Homo sapiens: one gene and its partners. The protein of the gene in region 3 interacts with the protein of the main gene of each other region in a pairwise test. Each region holds a gene or a part of one and is shown on either strand. Other genes may lie near its edges.

The links.
Region 1: the proteins of ZNF23 (region 3) and GMCL1 interact in binary tests that used the Homo sapiens proteins (3 or more experiments, as listed by UniProt).
Region 2: the proteins of ZNF23 (region 3) and TSGA10 interact in binary tests that used the Homo sapiens proteins (3 or more experiments, as listed by UniProt).
Region 4: the proteins of ZNF23 (region 3) and FHL5 interact in binary tests that used the Homo sapiens proteins (3 or more experiments, as listed by UniProt).

What each region holds. Positions count from the first base shown.
Region 1 is NC_000002.12:69,874,638-69,881,663, reverse strand, and holds the end of GMCL1 (germ cell-less protein-like 1), read right to left. Parts: intron 2,756-7,026; coding exon 2,660-2,755; 3' UTR 280-2,659; downstream 1-279. UniProt on the Homo sapiens protein: Possible function in spermatogenesis. Enhances the degradation of MDM2 and increases the amount of p53 probably by modulating the nucleocytoplasmic transport.
Region 2 is NC_000002.12:98,997,930-99,004,955, reverse strand, and holds part of TSGA10 (testis-specific gene 10 protein), read left to right. Parts: intron 1-6,734; coding exon 6,735-6,759; 3' UTR 6,760-7,026. UniProt on the Homo sapiens protein: Plays a role in spermatogenesis. When overexpressed, prevents nuclear localization of HIF1A.
Region 3 is NC_000016.10:71,459,240-71,466,893, forward strand, and holds the start of ZNF23 (zinc finger protein 23), read right to left. Parts: upstream 3,009-7,654; 5' UTR 2,971-3,008; exon of another isoform or gene 2,420-2,970; intron 2,030-2,419; exon of another isoform or gene 1,915-2,029; intron 1-1,914. UniProt on the Homo sapiens protein: May be involved in transcriptional regulation. May have a role in embryonic development.
Region 4 is NC_000006.12:96,566,125-96,573,150, reverse strand, and holds part of FHL5 (four and a half LIM domains protein 5), read right to left. Parts: intron 1-7,026. UniProt on the Homo sapiens protein: May be involved in the regulation of spermatogenesis. Stimulates CREM transcriptional activity in a phosphorylation-independent manner.

The DNA of each region.
Region 1 (7,026 bases), on a different chromosome or scaffold from region 3:
TAACAAAACAAAACAGTGACTACCACTGTTCTCCACATGGTTTTGCCTATCTTGCTAAGTTTCCATGCCAAACCATTTTTTTTTAAAGGAAAGGTATTTATATCCCTTCTTAATAACTTAGTGTGAAACTCTAGGACATATTCTCTTAAAGACCTCTTCCTTACTAATAGACAAACACAAATCATTCTTAAAATTAAATATTGTTTTCTAGCTCTAGCATAAAAAAATAGTAGAGGCTGTAAGACAAAAGCTGACAAAACACAAAGCTTTCACAAACCATGGTTTATACAATACTTTATCTTACACTATTAACACTTTATTGAAAATATTTCTATTGAAAAGAACTCTGGAAACACATAAAAATATTTGGTAAGAAAACAAAAGCACATCTTTACTACCAGTGTGAATTACTACCTGACAATTATCAACTTCTCAAATAAGAACATTAACCTACTTGTGATTGAAGAAAGAATTATCCTGTCTATGGATGACATAAGCAACTTGGCCAGGACAGAACCAATGGATGAAACCACATATAAATCCAATTTGGCCAGTTAACTTATGTAAGTGAAATGAAACAGTTAACTTTATTCATTAATATGATCAAAACATTATCTTTACTTCCAAGATCTGCAAAAACTTAATTATCCAAATAATTTAAGTTTGGAATTTATATATTTTTCAATACATAAAGGGTAAGGAAACTCTTATACAGTAATGAGACGGAAAGAAAACAACAGCTTCCCGTGAAAAAGACCTAATGTAGTCAAATATAAAAATAAGTACAGTAGCCTCTTTTTTTTTTTTTTTTTTTTTGAGACGGAGTCTCACTCTGTCGCCTAGGTTGGAGTGCAATGGCGCAATCTCCACTCACTGCAACCTCTGCCTCCTGGGTTCAAGTGATTCTCCTGCCTCAGCCTCCTGAGTAGCTGAGATGACAGGCGTGTGCCACCATGCCTGGCTAATTTTTATTTTGTGTATTTAATAGAGATGGGGTTTCACCATGTTGGTCATGGCTGATCTTAAACTCCTGACCTCAGATGATCTGCCTGCCTCGGCCTCCCAAAGTGCTGGGCTTACAAGTGTGAGCCACCACACCTGGCTGACACCCAGCTGAAATGTAACCTCTTGATAACAGCCAAATCACTGTATTAGAAACATTTAAATTCCAGCTCTGAGGGTCAAGGGTGAGGCATTTAAAAGGTTCCTTTAAGTTAAACCAAATGGATGAATTTTAAAAGAACAAAAGCAATTTATGAACCTATGGGCATATCATTAAAAAAGAAAAAAATTATTAATAAATTCCAAAAGTTAAAAGGAGTTGGGAAAAAAACCTAACTAGAAAGAAAAAATTTTGGTTTCAATTAAGGGGGATTTTTTGGTCCATTTTATGTAAGAGCTTACTCTTTTTCCAAATGGGCATTTATTATTTGCACAGATACATAAAAATGATTCCCATTTTAAAAACCATAATAAAAATATACATTAACCACAGAAGTACTTACTCTAACTGGAAAGAAAATGAACATGGCTATTTTCAAAACAGTAATAAACACAAAAGGTCAACATACATAAATCATGACAAGTGTACATCTCATTTTTGACAAAAATAAGTTCCATTTTTACATTAATGCTTCATCATCAGGCTCCATATTACATCCTCTGACCTTATTTACATTTACTATGAAATTTCTATTAGCATGTGTCACTCAAAGGCACTCAATTCAGAGGGTAAAAAGTCCTGAGCTTAAGTAGGAAACAAAGTTCCCAACTAAAATTTGAACATAAATAATTCTAAAGATCAGAGAATATTAAAATGTTTAAAACTATAATATCTGGTACATAAATAATTCAAAACCTAATAATAAAGGTGTACAGACTGTCAAAGAAAAGACCATGTAAGGCAAGAAATATCCTTGGAATCAAACTGATTTTTCCCTCATTCAAGATCATTTGAAGGTGCAAAGCTAACTTTCACTGTTCTTAAACTCCTAGGAAAGTCAAATTAAAAAAAATAGCAATGACAATGCTTAAGTTTTAAAAAAAGTTTATCAGCTTAGTCTCCAAAACCAGGAAGAAAATATTTAATGATTAAAAACAAGTATGACCTGGAAAGATATTAGACTAAAAGGAGGAATCACAATGAGCAGGTGAAAATGTTAAAGGAAAGCTTTCAATACACCAACTGAAAAAGGCATTTCTAATTGGCCAACCAAATTATTCTTTTAGATTATTTTAGCCAAATAAAAAGAAATTTACAGATGGATAACTGAGGTCCACTAACATAAGGTAGAAACAAAGTTTAAGCTAAAAATTAAATCTATATTTTGTTGCAGATAAATGTGAGATTTACCTACAGCAATTTTCTATTGATGCTAAATTAAAAGCATGAATTGACATCGTTCTAACAGAAATGGTTTGACAGATATTTTCTTGGCTTTAAAATGTTCTTACGCATATGCATAGAAATGCAATGAGGATAAGAATAATCTTCTGTATTGTCTGTACAGTTCATAAGGCCTTTGTCATTGTTAGTCACCTTCGATGTGAATATCAGTAGGGCCATTAAATTAAAGCTGGCCTAAAAAGTTTTCAAAGTGCTACTGTTTCCAACTGATGAAATCTTCAGTTTTCTGGATTTTCTGGGTGACGATTATTTTCAATTCTTTTTTTCTGGTGATATATACAAGAAGTTACAGCAGATATATAAAGGGAAGATCAGAAGCCTGCTGTCCAAGTTCATCACCACTTGTTCCTATAAGACAGATTTGTAGATTCAATGACAATTAGATAAAATAAAAACAAAAAACCAAACTGTTGAACTGAGTGAACCAAAGGAGATAGTGTCCTGAGTCTGAGATCCACAACTCCACTCTCCAAACTCCCACCCATTAGCTGTGTGACCTTGTCAAATGCAGCTTCCTCACTGTAAGATGGGGACAGTAAGAGTACCTGACTTAAAGGAGGATTACAAGAGATAATACACAGGGGGTTTTGCAAAGCCAGCTATCTATTAAGTACTCAATAATGGTAGTTATTTTCATTATTGCAAAAATTTCTATCAAATACTTACATATTTTGTCAACAGATACAATGTCTAGAAATACATAAACTTCTCACTGGGCTTCAATTTTTAAAAAAATTTATTTCCTTTTACAAAATTAATTAATTATTTTTAAAAATGAGATAGGGTCTTTCTATATTGCCCAAGCTGGCCTTGAACTCCTGGGCTCAAGAGATCTTCCTGCCTCATCCTCCCGCCTCAGCCTCCTGAGTAGCTGGGACTACAGGCAGGTGCCACTGTGCCTGGCTACTTGGCTTCAATTACTGATGGCCGTTGGGTACAGCAAATCACCCAGATGAAGGTCGGGAGTCATTATCATCATCAAAAAGCAGGGTTCCTACTATTGACATTTCCCACTGTCCCTATGACAAACATGTAATTTGTCTCCTGAAACATAAAATACATTATCATGGAAAAGCAATTTCAGGTTCAGTTACATCAACACACACAAGAATGCTCAGAACTCCCAGAGACAGGAGCTGACACTACACAAATATAACATCCCTGATGCTACAGATCTCTGTTTGGAACCTCATATATCCTTTACTAGAAGCATTTGGTAAATAGAATCAATCCTCAGAGTAAAAGAAGAAACACTAAAATGAGAATTCCTACGTTTTAAATGCCTGGGATATGCTCTCTGCAATAGTATGCATTAGTTACACTTTATTTATTTTGGATAAGATACTATTAAACACTGTTTAAATCCAAAGTTTTAATTTTTTACTGAGACATGTATTCCTGCATGAAGAGGAACTAAAACTAGAATATCTGTGTGACTGAAGCAGACTCACTAGACACAGCTTCTGTGTTGAGGGAACAAGAAGATAAATTTGAATAAAGAAGGTAGAGAGTACAAATGTCTCACACACACACACACACACACACACACAAACACACAATCTCTCTCTCTGTACGAGGGAAAGTGGTATTATAAAAAGACATCAGTGAACAAAATCAGGGGAGGCCATCACCTAGACTGTGCTAACAAGTGTCACCAGAGAGGAATTATGCCAAAGCATGGTTGGTCTTCAGATGCTTGAGACATCCTGAACTAGTCAAAATTTATATCAATAATCTGGGTGAAGGCACATTTACCAAATTTGTTGAGGACAAATGTTTTGATGATATGTATATCTGATGATAAAAATCAAGATTCTGTTCCATAACTAAAAGGCTCTGAGGAAGATTAGCCTTCTAGTATTTGAATACAGTTAAGATTGAGGCAGGGAAGGGTAGGTCAAAGGGCCAACTCTGGAGAAAGAAGGAAGGCACGTGGATATCACTTGGCTGAATGGATACACCAATTTTTGAATATTAAATTGTATTAATCCCCACTCTCCATTCCCAAACAGGATAGGTCGATCCGAGCTTCATCAAATCTGTTGTTTCACCTAAAGGTTCAATCTGCATCTACATTTGCATTGAAGTACCTTTATAGCAAAGTTCTATTTTCCTTATTCCATTGTGGATGGAATCTGTGGAGCCCACATATAGCAGCAGCAGAGCAGCAGCAACTTCCTAGGTCCCCATTTCTACTTCCAGACAATTAAATAAATTTCTGGGTATTTGTTGTTGTTGGTAGTGTTTTTTGTCTGTCTGTTTTTGTTTTGAGACAGGGTCTGACTCTGTCACCCAGGCTGGAGTGCGGTGGCATGATCATGGCTCATTGCAGCCTCAGCCTCCCAGGCTCAAGTGATCTTCCTGCCTCAGCTTCCAAGTAGGTGGTACCACAGGCACATGCCACCACGCCCGGCTAATTTTTCAATTTTTTGTATAGATAGGGTTTTGCTAAGTTGCCAGGGCTGGTCTTGAACTCCTGGTCTCAAGCAATCCTCTGGCCTTGGTCTCCCAAAGTGCTGGGATTACAGGCATGAGCTACCACGCCAAGCCTGCAATTTGGCTTTGATTCTCCATCCCAGCTTTTCAATGTCTCACCAGGTTACCTTTTTTGTCCATCTCTTAAATACCAGTGGTCCCTAGGGTTCTATCCTGTCATATTCTCTACACATTTCCTGTACATTATCTCATCCAATTATTATTTCTAGTTCAGGCATTACTTGTAAACTCCAAATCCATTATTCACCAGCCTATCAAATTTTCACCTTGATGCTCTCAAATTAAACATGCCCTAAACAGAATTCATCATCTCTTCACCATCACCAACACTATGTCATGTTCATTTTCCTTCCTATAATTCAAATCTCAGGTAAAACCACTACTGTAAATTAAATTGCTCAAATCAGAAAACCATCTGACATTTCCTCATGCACACACACAATTAAGAATCAAATTCTCAATTGCACCACTTTATTTCCAGAACCCATCAATATTTTCCTCTTCATTGCTACATTCTTTAAGGTTCTTATCACTTTTAATCTGAATTATAGCTATATAATCATAAATTGTTTTATTGCCATTATCATATCTTTAATCCTTCCTACACATTGCTGTCTGACGGAACCTTCTATAGTGAAAATCCATTTAGCATGGTCTTATAAGATGGACAGTTACAAAATAAATATACAAAAATCACTAACTTTCTTACATTATCAAAAACTATTAGAACAAATGATTCATTTCATATTAGCAACTGAAATGTAAAATACTGGCTGGGTGCGGTGGCTTACACCTGTAACCCCAGCACTTTGGGAGCCTGAGGTGGGCGGATCACGAGGTCAGGAGATCGAGACCATCTTGGCCAACAGAGTGAAACCCTGTCTCTACTAAAATACAAAAAAGCTGGGCGTGGTGGCATGTGCCTATAATCCCAGCTACTTGGGAGGCTGAGGCAGGGGAATCGCTTGAACCCGGGAGGTGGAGGTTGCAGTGAGCTGAGATCACGCCACTGCATTCCAGCCTGGCGACAGAACAAGACTCCGTTTCAAAAAAAAAAAAAGAAATGTAAAATACTAAGTGTTATACTTCCAGGAAATACACAGGAACAATATGGGAAAAACTACAAATTTTAGAGACAGACATAAGGGAAGACCTACGTAAATGTAGAAAATACCATATTCCAGAAAGGAAGACATCAATGGTCCACAAACTACTCTACATATTTAATCATATAAATTAAAATCCCCATAGGAATTTTTGCAAGGAAACTTGATAAAATGATCCTACATCCCATACAGGAGAATAATCATGCACAAAGAACTGAGAGATTTTTGAAAAAAAGAAAAATGAAGGTGGTTTTGCGTAACTAAATATTAAAATGCATTTTAAAGTTAGCCTAATTAAAACAATGCCTTGTCTTCATAACAAAGAAATCAATAAAACAAAAAGTCCAGAAATGAAAGCAAGTTTATAAGTATTTCATGTACAATAAGGCATTTCAAATACATTGATACATCCAGTACATTTCAGATATATCGTCAAATACTCCAAAGTAAAAAATTAAGCCATAAAAAGAACAGAAGAATATATAGATGACTATTTATATAATCCTAGTAAGATGGAGGCCTAAGGATAACACCAAAAAAAAGAAATCATAAAAGAAAAAGATAGATTGTTTTGAAGGTTGAAAAGACAAATGACAAAAATGTAAAAACTGTTTGGGCCTGGTGGCTCATGCCTGTAATCCCAGCACTTTGGGAGGCGGAGGCAGGTGGATCACTTGAGCCTAGGAATTCCAGACAAGCCCAGGCAACGTGGCAAAACCTCGTCTCTATAAAAAAATACAAAAAAGTTAGCTGGGCATGGTGGTGCGAGCCTGTAGTCTCAGCTACTTGTGAGGCTGAGGTGCGTGGAAAGGTTGGGCCCAGGAGGTGGAAGCTGCAGTGAGCCAAGATTGTACCATTGCACTCCAGCCTGAGTGACAGAGTGACAACCTGTCTCGGAAAAAAAAAAAAAAGTAAAAACTATAGAGTATCACAAATGTATTTTTAATATATAAAAGCTGTTAAAAATTAGCAAGAAAAAAATGAAATTTTAATAAAAAATTAAACAGGAACAATATA
Region 2 (7,026 bases), on a different chromosome or scaffold from region 3:
CCACTTGATGATGGTGGATAAGCTTTTTGATGTGCTGCTGGATTTGGTTTGTGAGTATTTTATTGAGGAGTTTTGCATCAGTGTTCATCAAGGATATTGGTCTAAAATTCTCTTTTTTTGTTGTGTCTCTGCCAGCCTTTGGTATCAGGATGATGCTGGCCTCATAAAATGAGTTAGGGAGGATTCCCTCTTTTTCTATTGATTGGAATAGTTTCAGATGGAATGGTACCAGCTCCTTCTTGTACCTCTGGTAGAATTCGGCTGTGAATCCATCTGGTTCTGGACTTTTTTTGGTTGGTAAGCTATTTATTATTGCCACAGTTTCAGAGCCTGTTATTGGTCTATTCAGAGATTCAACTTCTTCCTGGTTTAGTCTTGAGAGCGTGTATGTGTTGAGGAATTTATCCATTTCTTCTAGATTTTCTAGTTTATTTGCGTAGAGGTGTTTGTAGTATTCTCTGATGGTAGTTTGTATTTCTGTGAGATCGGTGGTGACATCCCCTTTATCATTTTTTATTGCATCTGGATTCCCTCTTTTTCTATTGATTGGAATAGTTTCAGAAGGAATGGTACCAGCTCCTCTTTGTACCTCTGGTAGAATTCGGCTGTGAATCTGTCTAGTCCTGGACTTTTTTTGGTTGGTAAGCTATTAATTATTGCCTCAATTTCAGAGCCTGTTATTGGTCTATTCAGAGATTCAACTTCTTCCTGGTTTAGTCTTGGGAGGGTGTATGTGTCCAGGAATTTATCCATTTCTTCTAGATTTTCTAGTTTATTTGCATAGAGGTGTTTAAAGTATTCTCTGATGGTTGTTTGCATTTCCGTGGGATCAGTGGTGATATCCCCTTTATCATTTTTTATTGCATCTATTTGATTCTTCTCTCTTTTCTTCTTTATTAGTCTTGCTAGTGGTGTGTCAATTTTGTTGATCTTTTCAAAAAACCAGCTCCTGGATTCATTGATTTTTTGAAGGGTTTTTTATGTCTCTATTTCCTTCAGTTCTGCTCTGATCTTAGTTATTTGTCTTCTGCTAGCTTTTGAATGTGTTTGCTCTTGCTTCTATAGTTCTTTTAATTGTGATGTTAAAGTGTCGATTTTAGATCTTTCCTGCTTTCTCTTGTGGGCATTTAATGCTATAAATTTCCCTCTACACACTGCTTTAAATGTGTCCCAGATATTCTGGTATGTTGTGTCTTTGTTCTCATTAGTTTCAAAGAACATCTTTCTGCCTTCATCTCGTTATTTACCCAGCAGTCATTCAGGAGCAGGTTGTTCACTTTCCATGTAGTTGTGCAGTTCTGAGTCAGTTTCTTAATCCTGAGTTCTAATTTGATTGATTGCACTATGGTCAGAGAGACAGTTTGTTATAATTTATGTTCTTTCACATTTGCTAAGGAGTGCTTTACTTCCAACTATGTGGTCAATTTTGGAATAAGTGTGATGTGGTGCTGAGAAGAATGTATATTCTTTTTATTTGGGTTGGAGAGTTCTGTAGATGTCTATTAGGTCCACTTGGTGCAGAGCTGAGTTCAAGTCCTGGATATCCTTGTTAAGTTTCTTTCTCGTTGATCTGTCTAATGTTGACAGTGGGGTGTTAAAGTCCCCCATTATTATTTTGTGGGAGTCTAAGTCTCTTTGTACATCTCTAAGGACTTGCTTTATGAATCTGGGTGCTCCTGTATTGATTGGGTGCATAGATATTTAGGATAGTTAGCTCTTCTTGTTGAATTGATCCCTTTACCATTATGTAATGGCCTTCTTTGTCTCTTTTGATCTTTGTTGGTTTAAAGTCTGTTTTAGGCCAGGCACGGTAGCTTACGCCTATAATCCCAGCACTTTGGGAGGCCGAGGCAGGTGGATCACGAGGTCAGGAGTTCAAGACCAGCCTGGCCAAGATGGTGAAACCCTGTCTCTACTAAAAATACAAAAATTAGCCGGGCATGGTGGCACTTGCCTATAATCTCAGCTACTCAGAAGGCTGAGGCAGAGAATTGCTTGAACCTGGGAGGTGGAGGTTGCAGTGAGCCAAGATCGCACCACTGCACTCCAGCCTGGGCGACAGAGTGAGACTCTTTCTCAAAAAAAAAAAAAAAGTTTGTTTTATCAGAGACTAGGATTGTAACCCCTGCTTTTTGTTGTTGTTGTTTTCCATTTGCTTGTTAGACCTTCCTCCATCCCTTTATTTTGAGCCTATGTGTGTCTCTGCATGTGAGGTGGGTCTCCTGAATACAGCACACTGATGGGTCTTGACTCTTTATCCAATTTGCCAGTCTGTGTCTTTTAATTGGAGTATTTAGCCCATTTACGTTTAAGGTTAATATTGTTATGTGTGAATTTGATCCTGTCATTATGTTGTTAGCTGGTTATTTTGCTCGTTAGTTGATGTAGTTTCTTCTTAGCCTCGATGGTCTTTACAATTTGGCATGTTTTTGCAGTGGCTGGTACCAGTTGTTCCTTTCCATGTTTAGTGCTTCCTTCAGGAGCTCTTTTAGGGCAGGCCTGGTGGTGACAACATCTCTCAGCATCTGTTTGTCTGTAAAGTATTTTATTTCTCCTTCACTTACGAAGCTTAGTTTGGCTGGATATGAAATTCTGGGTTGAAAATTCTTTTCTTTAAGAATGTTGAATATTGGCCCCCACTGTCTTCTGGCTTGTGGAGTTTCTGCCAAGAGATCTGCTGTTAGTCTGATGGGCTTCCCCTTGTGGGTAACCGGACCTTTCTTTCTGGCTGCCCTTAATATTTTCCCTTCATTTCAACTTCGGTGAATCTGACAATTATGTGTCTTGGAGTTGCTCTTCTCGAGGAGTATCTTTGTAGCGTTCTCTGTATTTCCTGAATTTGAATGTCGGCCTGCCTTGCTAGATTGGGGAAGTTCTCCTGGATAATATCCCGCAGAGTGTTTTCCAACTTGGTTCCATTCTCCCCGTCACTTTCAGGTACACCAATCAGATGTAGATATGGTCTTTTCACATAGTCCCATATTTCTTGGAGGCTTTGTTCGTTTCTTTTTATTCTTTTTTCTCTAAACTTCTCTTCTTGCTTCATTTCATTCATTTGATCTTCAATCACTGATACCTTTTCTTCCACTTGATTGAATTGGCTACTGAAGCTTGTGCATGCGTCATGTAGTTTTCGCGCCATGGTTTTTAGCTCCGTCAGGTCATTTAAGGTCTTCTCTATGCTGTTTATTCTAGTTAGCCATTCGTCTAATCTTTTTCCAAGGTTTTTAGCTTCTTTGCGATGGGTTCAAACGTCCTCCTTTAGCTTGGAGAAGTTTGTTATTACTGATCCTCTGAAGTCTACTTCTGTCAACTCGTTAAAGTCATTCTCTGTCCAGTTTTGTTCTGTTGCTGGTGGGGAGCTGTGTTCCTTTGGAGGAGAAGAGACACTCTGATTTTTGGAATTTTCAGCTTTTCTGCTCTGGTTTCTCCCCATCTTTGTGGTTTTAATCTACCTTCGGTCTTTGATGTTGGTGACCTACAGATGGGGTTTTGGTGTGGGTGTCCTTTTTGTTGATGTTGATGCTATTCCTTTCTGTTTGTTAGTTTTCCTTCTAACAGTCAGGACCCTCAGCTGCAGGTCTGTTGGAGTTTGCTGGAGGTCCACTCCAGATCCTGTTTGCCTCGGTATCACCAGCGGAGGCTGCAGAACAGCAAATATTGCTGCCTGATCCTTCCTCTGGAAGCTTCATCTCAGAGGGGCACCTGGCTGTATGAGGTGTCAGTTTGCCCCTACTGGGAGGTGTCCCTGAGTTAGGCTACTAGGGGGTCAGGGACTCACTTGAGGAGGCAGTCTGTCCGTTCTCAGATCTCAAACTCCATGCTGGGAGAACCACTGCTCTCTTCAAAGCTGTCAGACAGGGACGTTTAAGTCTGCAGAAGTTTCTGCTGCCTTTTGTTCAGCTATGCCCTGTCCCCAGAGGTGAAGTCTACAGAGATAGGCAGACCTCATTGAGCTGTGGTGGGCTCCACCCGGTTCGAGCTTCCAGGCTGCCTTGTTTACCAAATCAAGCCTCAGCAATGGTGGATGCCCCTCTCCCAGCCTTGCTGCCACCTCGCAGTTCGATCTCGGACTGCTGTGCTAGCAGTAAGCAGGGTCCATGGGTGTGGGACCCACCGAGCCATGCATGGGATATAATCTCCTGGTGTGCTGTTTGCAAAGACCACTGGAAAAGCACAGTAGTAGAGTGGGAGTGTCCCGAGCACTAGGAAAGGGAATTCCCCGACCCCTTGCGCTTCCCAGGTGAGGCGATGCCCTGCCCTGCTTTGGCTCACACTCTGTGGGCTGCACCCACTGTCCAACAAGTCCCAGTGAGATGAACCTGGTACCTCACTTGGAAATGCAGAAATCACCCATCTTCTGTGTCGCTTACGCTGGGAGCTGTGGACTGCAGCTCTTCCTATTCGACCATCTTGGAACGATCCCCTTTTTTTTTTTTTTTTTTAAGTCAGAGTTTCACTCTTGTCCCCCAGACTGGAGTGCAATGGCAGGATCTCAGCTCCCTGCAACCTCCACCTCCCAGGTTCAAGTGATTCTCCTGCCTCAGCCTCCCTGAGTAGGTGAGATTACAGGTGTCCATCACTACATCCAGCTCATTTTTTTTTTTTTTCAGTAGAGACGGGGTTTGCCATGTTGGGCAGGGTGGTCTCGAACTCCTGACCTCAGGTGATCCACCTGCCTTGGCCTCCCAAGGTGCTGGGATTACAGGCATGAGCCACCACACCTGGCCTAGTTTTTGTATTTTTAGTAGAGACAGGGTTTCACCATGTTGACCAGGCTGGTCTCAAACTCCTGACCTCAGGTAATCCACTCGCCTCAGCCTCCCAAAGTGCTAGGATTACAGGCATGAGCCACCACACCCTGCCATTTTGAAAATCTTTTTAAAAAATAGGTGAATTACACTGGGCGTGGTTGCTCACACGTGTAATCCTAGCACTTTGGGAGACTGAGGCAGACAGATCGCTTGAGCCTAGGAGTTACAGACCAGCCTGGGCAATGGTGAAACCCCATCTCTACAAAAAATACACACACAAAAAAAATTAGCCAGATATGGTGGCACGTGCCTGTATTTCTAGCTACTTGGTAGGCTGAGGTGAGAGGATCAACTGAGCCTGGAAGGTCATGGCTTCAGTAAGCCATAATCATGCCACTGCATTCTAGCCTGGGCAACAGAATGAGACCCTGTCTCAAAAATAGAATAGAACAGTATAAATAAAATAGATGAGTTAAAATCTTTTACATTATTGATATGACTGTTATGTCACATCAATAGTTATAATTACTTTCTGTACTATGTGATATTTGTTGTATTTCTTCATTTGATCAGTCTTCTTTGCTTTTTAACAAATTTCTTTTGGCTTTTATGAAAGTTTATTTTATTTTAGTTGTTACCTTTCTATTAATATGATTAACAATGCCCTTAATCACCTTTTTTCTCACTTAATCTTTTACTCTCAGTTTCAAATGGTGTCCTTTGACTGACACCTATTATCTAGACAACAGACATCACATTGAATTTACTTTCCTCTAACCACTGCTCTGTTTCCTGCCTCTCTAGTTTTGCCTTTCCCAGGTTGTCATGTAAATGGAATCATACAGTATGCAGCCTCTAGTGGTTGACTTTCACCCAGCATAATATATTTCAGATTTATCCAGGTTGTTGCATGTATTAGTAGTTGTCACATATTCCTTTTAACTGCTGAGTAGTATTCCATAGTATAGATGTACCACAGGTACTTTTTTTTAATGATTATAGTCTTGGCCATACACAGTGGCTCCTGACTATAATCCCAGAACTTTAGGAGGCTGAGGTGGGAGGATCATTTGAGGCCAGGAGTTTGAGACCAGCCTGGCCAACGTGGCAAAACCCCATCTCTACTAAAAATACAAACATTAGCTGGGCGTGGTGGCGCATGTCTGTAATCCCAGCTACTCAGGCGGCTGAGGCATGAGATTTGCTTGAACCTGGGGGCAGAGGTTGCAGTAAGCTGAGATCATGTCACTGCACTTCAGCCTGGGTGACAGAGTGAGACTCTGTCTCCAAAAAATAGTAATTAAAAAATAAAAATAGAATGATTATAGTCTCACAAGTAGTTGCAAAAATACCACAGACAGTCCCACATATCCTTACCCCAGCTTCTATAATGGAGTATCTTACAAACTGGGATATTGACATTAGCACAGTGTGATTAACTAGTCTAAAGGCCTTATTCAGATTTCACTAGTTTTTAGATGCACTCATTTGTTTGTATGTGTATATATATATTTTTTACAATCCACACACAGCACAACTATGATCAAGATGTGAAGTTGTTCCATCAGCACCAAAGAATTCACTCCCTCATTATGCCTATTTATAGTTGTAGCCCTGACCTTCTTCATCTCCCTGTCTCCTGGGAAACACTACTTTCTTCGCCATCTCTATAATTCTGTCGTTTTGAGATAACCTTTTCAGATTAACTTTTCTCATTCAGCATAATGCCCGTGAGATCCATCCAAGCTGCTGTAAGTATCAATAGTTCATTCCTATTTATTGTTGAATAGTATTCCATGGTATGAATGTACCAGTTTGTGAAAACTGAGTGAAAAAATATATTGTTTTTTGTTTTCCTTCATAGAAATGAAGAAAAATCTTACGTTTTGCTGAAGTGATACACTTACTAGAATAAATTTGTTACACATGTTGAAAAAGTTGAATTAAAAATATTAATCAGCATGATTTTTTCTCTTATAGGAATCTTTGCTACAGAGATTTCTGACACCTGAAATGATTCTTCACATCCCTGAGAAAGGTCAAAGTTACAAACTGATTTTTTTTTTTTTGCTACATGAGTGCATTTATCTTTTAAATGCTTGGCAATGTTAAATGTATTTATTAACTTTGTGTCTCTGAATCTCTGTTCTAATGTGCCATGTTGCAGTGATCTGAGATGACTTATAAAAACAAAAATGTATATGGCTCTTTCTATCCATGCAGTGATAGTGAGTGTAAAATCTGCTTACTTCACTATTGAACACTATTCTGT
Region 3 (7,654 bases):
CCTGTGGGACCCCCTTGACCAATAGGGGAGAGAAACCAATGGATAAATGTTTTCCCCGTCGATCCCCCAGCGGGGCAGCCTTAAGACTCCAAGGCTCCTCAAACGCCCTGCAAGGCAGAGCCTGTTGAGGGCCGAGCATACCAATGCATCCTTGTACCAGTTCTCCCATCTCTGTTTCACTCCCCTTGTCTTTCACTCTGCCCCTGTGACCATATTCCTAAATAAATTCCTACATACAAATCTTTGTTCCACGTTCTGCTTTTGGGGAAGCTTAGACTACAAAAGGCTTTTTTCCCACCTTCTTGAGGTTGCATGACTTATTCATTTATTTTCATTCTTCCTATTTGGCAATTAAAGCCTATAAGGCCACAAATTTTCCTTGGGATACACTATTTGCCACATTCCAGAGGTTTTTATATTTCATGTTTTAATTACTGTTTTATAGTCAGTCAGCAATTCTGTTTTGTCTCTGACCTAGTAATTGCTTAGGATAGTTTACTGTTGCTAATTTCTTCTGTTTATAAGTTCTGGCTTTATTGCATGATGGTTATATAACCCAATCTACTAACTTCTACTTTACACATTTTTCAGGGTTTTTTTGTGACTCATGTCCATTTAAAAAAATATATTATCTGGTGTTTAAAGAGAAAACTTATTCTGTGATGGGAGAATATACAACTCCATTTTTAGATAATAAACCAACTCTACCAATTACATATGTAGTGTGATAGCTACCCCGCTCAGCTAGTCAAGGGTGTATACCTGCTGCCTGAACCTTGAAGACCGGGCAGTGAGTCAAGACCATGGGGCTCAGCAGAGGAGCAGGTGTTTGCAAGAACGTAAACATCCTAGAAAGTATATGAGAACCTACCAAGAAAAGTCTCATCGTTTAAATGCAGTAGGCAAACAGCCAGAAAATTCTCTAAAAAGTACTTAGAGACGAGGGGCATCACAGGTCTCTAAAGCTGTCCTGCTGCCATCCAGGAGTAAGTATGTAAGTCCTAATAAACTCATCTACTTGCCAAGCTGGACTCGTCCAAGGCATTCTTTGGTCTCTTGGCTCCCTCCCAAGGGGATAGTTTTTTTTTTTAAATACGATTCCAGGTTTTTTCCTGTTATGACATTATATAGATTTTCTACATAATCCTTGATTACTTTTACCTAATTAAACCAAGATGGCCAGTGAAGAACTAACTCTCACAAAACACTGAGCTCAGATGTGTCATGAGCAAATTCTTTCAATGTTTCGGAAATGAGTAATTCTAACACTATGTAAACCGTAGCAGAGCACAGCAAAGTAAGTTTCCCAATTCTTTTTATGGTGCCAGCACAATACTGATGCAAAAACTACAGACCAGTCTCATTTATGAATTCTAATGCAAAAATTCTATCAAGGAATAGACTCCAATAGTTCATTAAATACATCATGAGTAAGTAGGATTATCCCACGAAGATACTAATTAGTATATTTTTCACATTAATAAATCAAAGAAAGATAAACACACTGTCCATCTCAACAGATGCCAAAGATGTTTAACATAATTCAACATTTGTGCCTAATTTTAAAAACTTACACACTAGAGAAACTCTCATATGTAGGAAGTACGTACAAAAATATTATCAGCACATTTTAATAACAAAACACTGAAAACAACCCACATGTCCATTGAAAATACATCGATAAATTTTCATACAGTTTTTACAATGGAACATTACCCAGAAGCTACACACAGAATGAATTTGGAAACTTAACATTGAATTATGCGAGTCCCAGATGACTTATACACACAATGGTGCCATTTATATGAAGCTCAAAAAAAAAATTTAAGTACATTGCTTACAGATACATGCATATGTAATTATTTTTTAAAATAACAGGGCTACAATTAACACAAAAGTCAATATAACTGTTACCTCTAGGGGTTGGAGGCTGGGAGTTGGGTTGAGGAGGAGGAACACATTGATAAATTCAGCAGTACTGGCAATCTTCTCTTTCTTAATTGGGTGGTGTGTTCATGGATGTTTACTACTATATATGTAACATATAAATATATATTTTAAATAAATATATAAACCAGCAAGGATGGGGTGAAATTGAGGACCCAAAATGTAATACAAAGAACAGCCAATGTGCTTAACTATACTACAGTGAACATAACCACACTTAAGTGGTAGGAAAGAAAAGGGGTAAGCAACTTTGGAAAACAGTATTTTGACTAAATACCATAAGAGTAAAGACAAAAAGACCTGTATCCAAGTACTGTACTTTAGGTAGTAAATTTGCTTTTCATGGGGGTATGAATTAGCGATTCTGAGACTACTAAATATATTCTAAAACTGAGTGAATTCGTAATTACGTTGTAGAAGTCATTCCCAGGTCACTGTCAACCCTGAGCCGAGAGAAGCAGGGCTGAGTTACCTTTTGGGACTGACACTGCTCCAGGAGACAATGTCCTCCAAAAGCCGGGCTGCTTCTGCTGCCGGGTGACTGGGAGGGGCTCTGCGCTCCCACTCGGCCCTAATTCATGACCCTATGTCAGGAGCCTGGGAGCACACGGTCCATACTCGGGATGCACATAGGTTAATGTTCCTGCCAGACCTCAGCATGTCAAAAGACTTGTGGTATCACCTCGGGCCGCTTCACGCCCGCAAATATTCCATCTTTTAGCTGCACCGACACATCTTCCCCCGTCGACCAAGTGCTAAATGCTCAGGGCCTCGTGGCTGGGACAGCAACGTGCGTTTCCCCTTCCAATGGGCGCAAGCTATTGAGCCACAAAGACCAAAGCTGGAGTCGAGGAGCGCGGAAGAGCACCCCGGGCCGCCGCCCTGCTCCCTCTCCCAGCCTGGGCCTCCTGGCAGCGTAGGCCACGGGAGACCCTGCAGCACCCAGGGTGGGAGTGCGTCTCAACCGGACCCAGAGCCTGGGGGACAGGGCACGGCACACAGCGCCCGGAGCCCTGCACTCACCTCCGTAGCGGACTGCTCCCCGGCGCTGCCGGAAGTGCGTCACCAGGCGGCCGGGCCTCTCTAGGAGCAAGGTCGCTGCGCCTCGGTGGTGGTCACGCCCGGCCAGCTGTGGCCGCATCCCTGTCGGCTAGCTCGGGTCTGGCCCACGGTGACTGTTACCCCTGGGGAATGGGGCAGGTAAGAATCAGAGCCAAGCGGGGACCCAGCCCGGGGAGGTGAAGCTGCAGGTGCAGCCACGTGTGGGAGTCTTGGAAATGGACCAGTGGATGGCGCGCTGTCACACCCAATGCCCCCTTTTTCTAACAAATAGTTTGTAATGTCCATCTTATTCTCCTGACCTGATATTCATATATAATGGCCTAGAAAATCATACATAACATACACACCTACATATTAAAAACTAATGTTATGCCTTAAGTGTAATGAAAGAGAAAAAAAAGAGGACCGTCATCTGTCGTTTAAAAACACATACTTCAATGTGTTTGGTCTTGGCTGCTGCAGGAGACCTAATAAGGTGGTCGCCTTTACACATAGACGTTGTCTGAGTGCCACAGCCACAAAGCTGTGACTTACATTGTTGCAAAAGTCACAAAATTATGATCCAAAATGGCAAACATGTTTTCGTGAAGTTCTGAATGAAACACAGGACAATCGTCTCTTGATTATACAATAATTACATTCCTGGAAGATCAGTGTATGTTAAAACTGTGCAAAAATACATGTTTATCCAGAAAACAGGTTTAGATTCAGATAATTTAGAAATAGAATTTTCACCTACCTGAATGTTCAGCAAGACATTTGAAAGTGTGAACATTTTTTCAGTGGGCAGGACTGTCCTGTACATTGCAGGATCCTGGCTCCTATCCACAACGCTAGTAGCAATGTTACCACTGACACCAAATATAACAAAATACCTACCATAAAATTCCAAAATGAGCCCTGGGGGAAGGGAGACAGTACTAAATGCCACTGGATTGGACGACCCTTAAAATCCCCACCCCCTCACACACCCCCTAACCCTGGTAATGTGGGCTTTTCTTCCTTCCAGCTCTGATCCATCCAACGCTGCTGCACTGGAGACTGGTATTTGGCTCCCACTTGCCTCTGTGGCTTCTTATCACTCCCATTCATTCCCTGACTCTACCTCAGCCCTACATGCTAAAAATGCTGTTCTCTAAATCTAGAATGCCCTTCCCTTCCCATTCCTACCCTCCATCTTGACTGTTACTGGAAGTGTGAGCTCAAATCCCATTTTGCATGGGAAGCAAGCCTTCCCTCATCACCCAGAATAAGGCAGGACACTCATTTATGTGCCATCACAGCACTGTGTACTTACTTAATGGTGATAGTTTATTTATATGTCTGTCTTCTCTGGTGGCTGCAGGGAACAGACACTGTATCTATCTTGTTCAACATCATCATCCTCAGCTAGAGAATAACTGGCAGAAAGAAGGAGAGCAATAAACATTTGTTGTTGACAATGGTCCAAAGGCTCCAGCCCTAACTCTTAGGCAGAAGCCTACTTTGTGTGTCCCCAAGGGTAGGATATGTCTTATGCCTTGGACCTTGACAGTGACCATGGCCAGGTGCCCTTCTCTGCCTTGCCCTGACCCTGATCTTCACTGTTTTCCAAAATGAGTTCATTAAGAAAATGATTGGGCAGAGTAATAGCTGGGGATTACGTTGCTCTTGTCAATAAGTTCTGGTTTTCACTTCTTTCTAGGGTCAGAAATCAGGAGTGAGGACTTGTTGAAAGAAATAGGAAGGAATCAGATCACATAAATGCTGGCCCCAAATGTTTGCATCATAAACCCATTGCCTAATTTTACAGTTGAGAAAATAAAGCTCTCTAAATAACCACAAAGCTCCTACTCCTACTTCAGACATATCAGAAAAATGAGATAATAATGCACAAACCAAGTTTCAAAAGCTCTATGGTAGGTCTGGAGAGATGGAGATCAGTTCTTGTCTGTCAGCCCCTGTTCTTCCATTCTTATAAGGTTACAGAATCTCTAGCAAGGGACATGACAGCTCAGGGAAAAAGCACACATTTCCCAGCATTCTTTAAGGCAAAGTGTGTCCATGTGACCAACTTCTGGCAAACAGGCTGTAAGAAAATGTGATGCTGTGTCCTTAAAGACAAGGGACATGCCCTCCCTGCCCCCAAACCTTCATCGACCAGGTGGAATGTTGACAAGGGAGAGCATCAGAGCATCTTGGACCATGTGAATAAGGGTGTGGCTGCTGGGGATGACAGAGCAACTAAAAGGAGGAGGCACAGAGCTGCTATATCAGCCCCAGATGGCTTACTTTCTGATGATACATGAGAGAGAAATAAACTTTCATCAAATTTAAACCACATTTATTTGGGTTCTTCAAATTAATTTCCAAGCCCATAGCCTAACTAATACCCCTAGAAATGAGGAAGGATGGAAAAATCACACAACACAAGAGTTAAAAAATTAAGCTGGCTCTTCGACTACAGCATTCTAGAAGTTCATTTCCATGCTGGGCCTGCAGCCATGTAGTGTCAGTTTCCTCCTGCTCAGCTCTAAGGCTTCTTCTCCTGCACCCTTTGTCCCTGCAGCCCCAAGACCTCTCTAAAGCCCTTCCTCTCTGACCACCAGGGAAAGCTGACAATCTTCTCATGTTAAAAAAAATCTTTTTTGTTGGCCAGGCGTGGTGGCTCACACCTGGAATCCCAGCACTTTGGCAGGCTGAGGTGGGGGGAGTTACCTGAGGTTGGGAGTTCGAGACCAGCCTGACTAACGTGGAGAAACTCTGTCTCTACTAAAAATACAAAATTAGCCAGGCGTGGTGGCGCATGCCTGTATTCCCAGCTACTCGGGAGGCTGAGGCCAGAGAATCGCCTGAACCCAGGAGGCGGAAGTTGTGGTGGGCTGAGATAGCGCCATTGCACTCCAGCCTGGGCGACAAGAGCGAAACTCCGTCTCAAAAAAGAAAAAATATTTCTTGTTGTTTCCAGTTTTAATAGGACAGAGTAAAGATGGCTTTGCCTGCTTCTTCTCATGAAAACTGTGGCAAAACAACTGTCTGGTTGATGTTCATTCCAGGAGTTCAAGGCTGTTTTCAGGCTACAAAATTTTTACCTACTTATTGATGTTGTGAGTTCTGTGAATAAATCATTTAATCTATGTGGAGAAATGTACTAGGGTAGGGCAAGGTCTTATTCTCAAAGCAACCAAACATATATAGGAATAAGTTTACTAATAAATGTATAAGACATATATCAAGAAAATTTTAAACATTTGGGGACTAAACCAATGAAAACCCCTTGTGTAAATGGAAAGGCACAGGTAATCCTTCAGTAGGAAGGGTAGTTTTCTTTATTTAATCCATAAGTCCAACGTCATACCAAATAAAACCCCTATAGGATTTGTTTTAAAACTTGTGAAAATGATTCTAAAATTTACGCAGAAAAAATGTTAGAAGTGACTGGACAGTGCCTCATGCCTATAATCCCAGCACTTTGAGAGGCCAACGTGGACAGATCACCTGAGCTCAGGAGTTCAAGACCAGCCTGGCCAACATGGTGAAACCTTGTCTTTACTAAAAATACAAAAATTAGCCCAGCGTGGTGGCGCACACCTGTAATCCCAGCTACTGGGGAAGCTGGGGCAGGAGAATTGCTTGAACCCGAGAGGCGGAGGTTGTAGTGAGCCAAGATCATGCCACTGCACTCCAGCCTGGGTGACAGAATGAGACTCCGTCAAAAAAAAAAAGAGAGAGAGAAGGAGAGAGAAAGAAAGAAAGAGAGAGAGAAAGAGAAAGAAAGAGAAAGAAAGGAAGGAAGGAAGGAAAGAAAATGTTAGATGCTTATAAGGTACTACTGAAACTTAAGAAAGCACAAGTATTGAAAGTCAAAGAATGGAAAATAGATATATCAGACAAGTATTAAGGGAAAGGGAAAATGGCACAGCTATATTAATATCTCACAACAATAAGTTTAAGACAATAAATATTACGCAGAATTCAGTTGAGGGCAATGTAGCAAATAATATAAACTAGAATCTAGAAATTTAGAATAAGATATAATATTCGACATCATTTTAAATACTTAACTCACAGGAAAGTGTACCCACGTACCAAAACCAAACAAGAAACTAAAACCAGAGGCATTGGTTTGGACTGAGGACCTCAGCTGATGCTTTGGCCAACAGGGGTGGGAATGGTGAAGAGTTGTAAGTCTTGATATCTGAGAAAGCAGAATTATAATATGCAGGAGGCATATTACAGGAACAAGGAATAGGAACAGAGACTTTTCTCACACACATACACTCATCCAATCATGAAAGGATAAATTTTTTAAAAATCTCATGAACAAAGAGAGATAACAAAGAATCTTATGGTCCTTGCCTAAGCTTTGAAGTGGTAGTAGAAATGTCTTCTAAAAATTTATAATCATAGTTTGCATCATTAAGTATAGAGTTTAAATTAATACTATCTACTTGGACCAGTAATTCATAATCCAAGAAATTACATTAAAAACTAATCCTGATAGACTTCTGAAATAGTCACAACAGAATTAGTAGGCAATGACATTTAAAAGTTATTACAACCATATCTGATACATCTAAAAGTTTGGTGGAGAAATGAAACATATAAAAAAGACCCAAATCAAACTTCTAAAGATAAAAACCTATAATGTGCAATAAAAATACAT
Region 4 (7,026 bases), on a different chromosome or scaffold from region 3:
CTAACTGATCAATAAATGAATGAAAATATGAATGAATGAATTACATGTATGTATGACTTTTTGGTACTGTCAAAGATAATAAATAGTTTGATACCTTGATCAGGAGAACGGTTAATCTTCTTTCTAAAAGTATTAAAGGTCAGAGAGATAGCAGCAAGATAGCCAACTAGAAGCCCCTAGTGCTTATGCCTCTGTCAAAGACAGCCAGAACAATGGAAAAGCAGCTGCATTTTAAAACTAATAGAAACTTGGGTGAGCACAAAAACTCAGGATGGCTACATAGAGAATAAGGAAATGCCAGGCCTTCACCATCCCATCCCCCAAGTGGGATCAGCTGGAAGCCAGGAGGAACTTCTTATGGTGAGGAGGTAAGCAGGATGACTCCAACAATCTCCATCAACACCCTGGACACCAACAGACCTTCCCACTGGTGTTCTCTGCAGTCTTCTTAGGCACCAAGCCCACATGGTGAAGCTGCCTGGAGTCTATATAGCTGTGCTTAGCCAGAGAAGGAGTTGACACTGTGCCCCACCTGCTGTGGCCCATGTGACTATTGGCTATGGCATCTTGGAACAGGAACTACAGCTAGACTGAGCCTTACTCAAGGAGTAAGTAGTCATGGCTCCCCTTCATCCCTGAGACTAAACCACCCCTGAACCACCCCATCCCCAGAGCCCCACATCCCCAATATGTGCTGTTAACAGCTGTTAACACTTTTTCCTGTGGGGTCAAGTGGAGGTGGAATTGCTCTACCAACTCCTCCCCCTGCCCCTGCTGAAGCAGCATCCTGTCTCTTGGGAAAACAGTACCTTGGCTATTCAGAGCAGTCATGTCTCCCTGGTGTCTAAGTTGAAGTGGTGCCCTGCATCCTAGGAAATTGTGCCTTGGCCATCCAGAGCAGTCATGCACTCCATTACTTAAGCTGAACTGATGCCCCGCATCCCAAGAAAACAGTGCTTGTGCAGCCCAGAACAGTCACATCCTTCAAGCCTGAGCTGAAGTGGCACATTGTCCCTTGGGGAATTAGTGCTCTGGCTGAGCTGAGCAGAAACTGAGCTGAGACACCTTGCTCTATAAACTGAACAATTTTAGACTTCGATTCCCCAGCACTGGCCTAGCTCTCTAGAGTCTCAGATGCAGAAGTACCCCTCTATCTAGGGAGTGGAGTCATTGCTGTGTTTTTTCCTACCCACCTGTCACCCAGGGAACAAACAACAGCTGTCCTCCACCATTCTGGAGTACTGAAAGCAAATACACTTGGCCCCACACATTCTGGGATACTGCTGAGCACCACTATCCCAGGGTCTACAATCACTACTACCCAGTGCCTCATCCCTTGGAACCTGAGTTGACACTGAGCCCTATTGACTCAGGTTTCTGAATTGCAGCCATACCCTGCTCCCAAGGCCAAAGTTCCAGAGCACTCCTTATTCCCTGGAGTCAGGCCAGTGCTGTGCCCTGCCCCCCAGGGGTAGAATCACAGCTACAACCTGGCACCCTGAGCCTGAGCTGCTAGGGGGTCCCTCAGAATCATAGATCCTGGCTCTATGGGTAACCTACATCCAACCCTGCCACAAGGGGTGAAGCTGCACCCCAAGCCCAGTTGCCTCAATAGCTTTATGAGATACTGAGCTGAAAACTCCTACTGCATGTAGAATCCTGATCACTGCACGTAGAACCCATGCCACTGCAGCTGCTTGTAGGCCATGTCAGACTTGACACCAAAAGGGATGCGCTCAGCTAAGTCTCCTTATTTTAGAGAAAACCAGAATAGGAGGACCCCAGAAGCCCTTAACACAAAGAACATTAAAAACTTATGTTGCCAGTGCCATTGCCACAAACCTCTAAGCGTAGGCTATGAGGCACCCACAGTTATTCCTGACCTTGAATACAACTGAAGAAGCTGCACAGAGACTCTATCTCTATACCTATCTGGAAACAGAGTCACTACACCTTTTCTAACTGCACAGTAAAACTCAACTGCAGGATGAAAGACTTTCTTTATGAAAATCACTCCAGAAAGTTTGAAAAAGGTGATTATTTCACTAGATACACAGACATCAATGCAGGGACACAAGAAACATGAAAAAGCAAGGAAATAAGAGACCAACAAAGGAATATAATAACTCTCTAGTAACAGACTCCAATTAAAAGGAAATCAATTAATTGCCAAAAAAATGTAAAATAATGATTGTAAGGAAACTCAATTAGATACAAGGAAACACAGATACACAATTAAATAAAATAAGAAAAAAATTCACAATATAAATGAAAAATTCAATAAAGAGATAAAAATCATAAAAAGAACAAAACAAGAATCCTGCAGTTGAAGAATTCAATGAATAAAATATAAAATACAATAGAGAGCTTCAGCAGCAGACTTGATCAAGCAGAAAAAAGAATCTCTGAACTTAAAGCTAGGTCTTTTGAAGTTACCCAGTCAGAGAAAAGAAAAAAGAAATAAGAATGAAAATGAGTGAAGAATTCCTATAAGACTTATTGGAAAACATTAAACAAACAGATATTTGTATTATGGAATTTCCAGAAGGAGAAGATAAGGAAAAAGTATAGAAAGCCTGTTTAATAAAATAATAACTGAAAACTTCCCAATTTAGTGGTGGGGGTTGTGGAGGAGGGATATTTGAACATCCAGCTCCAGGAAACTCAAAATTCCCCAAATAGATTCAACCCCAAAAAGGTCCTCTTAGAGGTACATTATAGGCAAATTGTCACAAGTCAAAGACAGAGAGTTCTAAAAACAGCAAGAGAAAATTGTCAAGTCACATAAGAGAACTGCATTAGACTAGTAAATTTTGCTACAGAAACCTCACAGGCGAGGAGAGAATAGAGTTATAAACTCAAAATGGTGAAAGAAGAAAAAAAATTGCTAGCTAAGAATACTATACCCAGCAAAGTTATCCTTCAGAAATTAGGAAGAAATAAAGCCTTCTCGAGGTAAGCAAAAACTGAAGGAATTTGTCACCACTCACCTGGCCTTACCAGAAATGCTTAAGTGATTTTCACTTACATCTGGAAGTGAAAATCACTGTCATGAAAACACACCAAAAGTATAAAGCTCATTGGTAGAGCAGATATATGAGGAGAAAGAGAAAAGAATCAAACCTTGTCACTACAGAAAACCACCAAACCACAATGATTAACTATAAGAGAAAAAGAAAGGAACAAAAGATATACAAGACAACAGGAAAACAACAAAATGGTGGATGTTAAGTCCTCACTTATCAATAATAACCTTGGCTGTAAACAGACTAAATTCCCAACTGAAAAGATATAGACTAGCTGAATGAATTAAAAAAAAAAAAGACCTAAGTATATGCTGCCTAAAAGAAACTCACTTCACCTAAAAAGACACATATAGAATAAAAATAAGGGATGGAAAAAAAATCCATACAAATGGAAACCAAAAGCAAGGGAGAATAGCTATACTTATATCAGGTAAAGCAGACTTTAAACAAAAAGAGACAAGGTTATTTTCACTTCAGCAAGAAGATGTAACAATTGTAAACATACACACATCCAATACCACAACATCCAGATTTATAAAGCAAATAATTAAACCCAAAGGAGAAATAGATTTCAGTACAATTATAGCTGGGGACTTCAACACCCCTCAGCATTGGACAGATCATTCAGGCAGAAAATTAACAAAGAAACATTTAATTTAAACTGCACTTTAGACCAAATGAACCTACCAGACATTTACAGAACATTTCATTCAACAGCTGCAAAATACATATTCTTTTCATTAGAAAATGAAACATTCTTTAGCATAGACCACGTTAGACCACAAAACAAATCTTAACAAATTTAATAGAAATCATATCAATTTTTGACCACAATATAATAAAACTAGAAATCAAAATAACGAGGAACTTTAAAAATTGTACAAATACATAGAAATTATACAACATGTTCCTGAATAACAAATTAGTCAATGAAGAAATTAAGAGGAAGATTTTAAAATATCTTCAAACAAATGAAAATAGAAACACAAAATACCAAAACATCTGGGGTATAGCAAAAGCAGTATTAGAAGGTAAGTGTGCAGCAACAAACACCTATATCAAAAAAGTAGAAAGATATCAAATAAACAAGCTCATGATGCACTTCAAGAAACTAGAAAAGCAGAGTAAACCAAGCCCAAAATTAGAAGGAAAGAAAGAAAAGCATACATAAATAAAATTAAGACTAAAAAATACAAAATATCAACAAAATGGAAAGCTGAATTTTTTTGAAAAGATAAACAAAATCAACATTCCATTGGCTTGACTACCCAAGAAAAACGTAAAGGTCCCAATAAAATCAGGAATGAAAAGGAGACATTACAACTAATACCATAGAAATACAAAAAATTATCAGAGACTATTATAAACAGCTATATACCAAAAACTTTAGAAGACCTGACAGAAATAGGTAAATTCCTGGACACAAACAATCTATCAGAAGTGAACCAACAAGAAAGAGAACACCTGAACAGACCAATTACAAGTAATGGCATTAAGTCTGTAATAAAAAGTCTCTTATCAAAAAGAAGCTCAGAATATGACAGCTTCACTCTGGAATTCTACCAAAGATTTATAGAAGAACTAATACAAATTCTCCTCAAATTCTTCCAGAAATTGAAGATAAGGGAATTCTTTAAAACTCATTCTATGAGGCCAGTGTTACCTTGATACCAAAACTAGTCAAGGATGCAACAACAAAAAAAGAAAACTATAAGCCAATGAACATGATGAGCATAGATGCAAAAATCCTCAACAAAATACTTGTGAACCAATCTGGCAGCACATTAAAGAGATTATTCACCATGTAGGTAAGATTTACCTCAGGGATGTAATATACAAATGAATAAATGTGATACATTACATCAACAAAATGAAGGGCAAAAACAATTTGATCATCTCAAGAGATAGAGAAAATGTATTTGAGAAAAATTCAACATCCCCTCATGATAAAAATTCTCAACAAGTTAGGTATAGAAGGAATGTACTTCCACATAATTAAAGCCATGTATGACAAACCCACAGCCAATATCACACTGAATGGAGAAAAGTTTAAAGCTTTTCTTCTAAGATTTGGAAGACAATCATCTCACTTTTATTCAAAAGAGTACTGGAAGCCCTAGGCAGAGCACTTAGGCTAGAGAAAGAGATAAGGAGCATCTAAATTGAAAAGGAGGTCAAATTGTCCTCATTTGCAAATAACAAGAGCTTCTATATAGAAAATCATAAAAGCTCCACCAAAAATCTCAGAACTGATAAACAGATTCAGTAAAGTTGGAGGATACAAAAAAAAAAAAAAAAAGAATACAAAAACCAGTAGCTTTTCTATACACCAAAAACAAACTAGTGGAAAAAAAATCAAGAAACAAATTGCATTTATAATAGCTACAAAAAAAGCCATGTAGGAATATATTTAACCAAGGAGGTGAAAGATCTCTACAATAAAAACTGCAAAACACTGATAAAAAAAATTGAAGAAGACACAAAAAATGGAAAGATATCTCATGTTCATGAATTGTAGACATTAATATTGTAAAAATTAATACAATACTACTAAAAGTGATCTACCAATTCAATGCAATGTTATCAAAATACCAGTGATGTTCTTCACAGAAACAGAAAAAAACTCCTACAATTTATATGAAACCACAAAAGACCCTGAATAGCCAAAGCAATCCTGAGCAAAATGAACAAAGCCGGAGAAATCACATTTTGAACTTCAAAATATATTTCAAAACTATAGTAACCCGGATAGCATGATATTGGCATATGAATAGAGACATAGAACAATGGAGCATAATAGAGAACCCAGAAATAAATTCACATATTTACAGCCAAATGATTTTCAACAAAGCTGCCAAGAACATTTAATGGGGAAGGAACAGTCTCTTTGAAAAATGATGCTGGGAAAACTGAATATTCATATGCAGAAAAATGAAACTGTATTTCTACCTCACATAACATGTAAAAATCAACTCAAAATGGATTAAAAACTTAAATATAAGACCTGAATCTATGAAGCAACTAGAAGCAAACATAGGGGAAATACTTCAGGGTATTGGTGTGAGCAAAAATTTCATGGATAAGACCTCAATAGCACAGACAACCAAAGCAAAAATAGACAAATGAAATTATGTCAAACTAAAAAGCTTCTGCGCAGCAAAGGAAACAGTCAACAGAGAAAAAAGACAACCTGCAGGACAGGAGAAAGTATTTGCAAACTATTCATCTGACAAGAGTTTAATATTCATAATATAAAATGAGCTCAATAGCAAATAAAAAATCACATTAGAAAGCAGACAAATAAGCTGAATAGACATCTCTCTAAAGAAGACATACAAATGGCCAACAGGTAGGTACAAAAAATGGTCAATGTCATTAATCATCAGGGTAATGCAAATCAAAACCGCAAGAAGATATAATCTCACCCCAGTTAGAATGGCTATTACCAAGGAGACAAAAAAAAAATGCTGACAAGGATTTGGTGAAACACAAACTCTTATATGTTATTTGGAATATATGCATATATATGCCCATTATGGAAAACAGTTTGAAGGTTCCTCAAAAAATTAAAAATAGAACTACCGTATGATCCAACAATCCCACTACTGGGTATATATCCAAAGGAAAGGAAATCAGTATGTTAAAGAGATATCTGTATTCCCATGTTTATTGCAGCACTACTCACAACACATAGCCAAGATATGAAATTACCTAAGTTTCCATCAATAGGCGAATGGATTAAAAAAAGTGCTATATATCCCAATGAAGTATTATTTAGTTGTAAAAAAGAACAAATTTCTGTCATTCACGGCAACATGAATGAGCTTGGAGGACATTATTTTAAGTGAAATAAGCTAGACACAGAAAGATAAATACTGCATGTCCTCATGAATATGAAGAAGCTAAAAAAGTCAATCTCATAGAAGGAGAGAGCAGAATAGTGCTTACTGGAAGCAGAAAAGGGTAGGGGGAAGAAAGAGATAGCCAAAGGTAGGTTAAG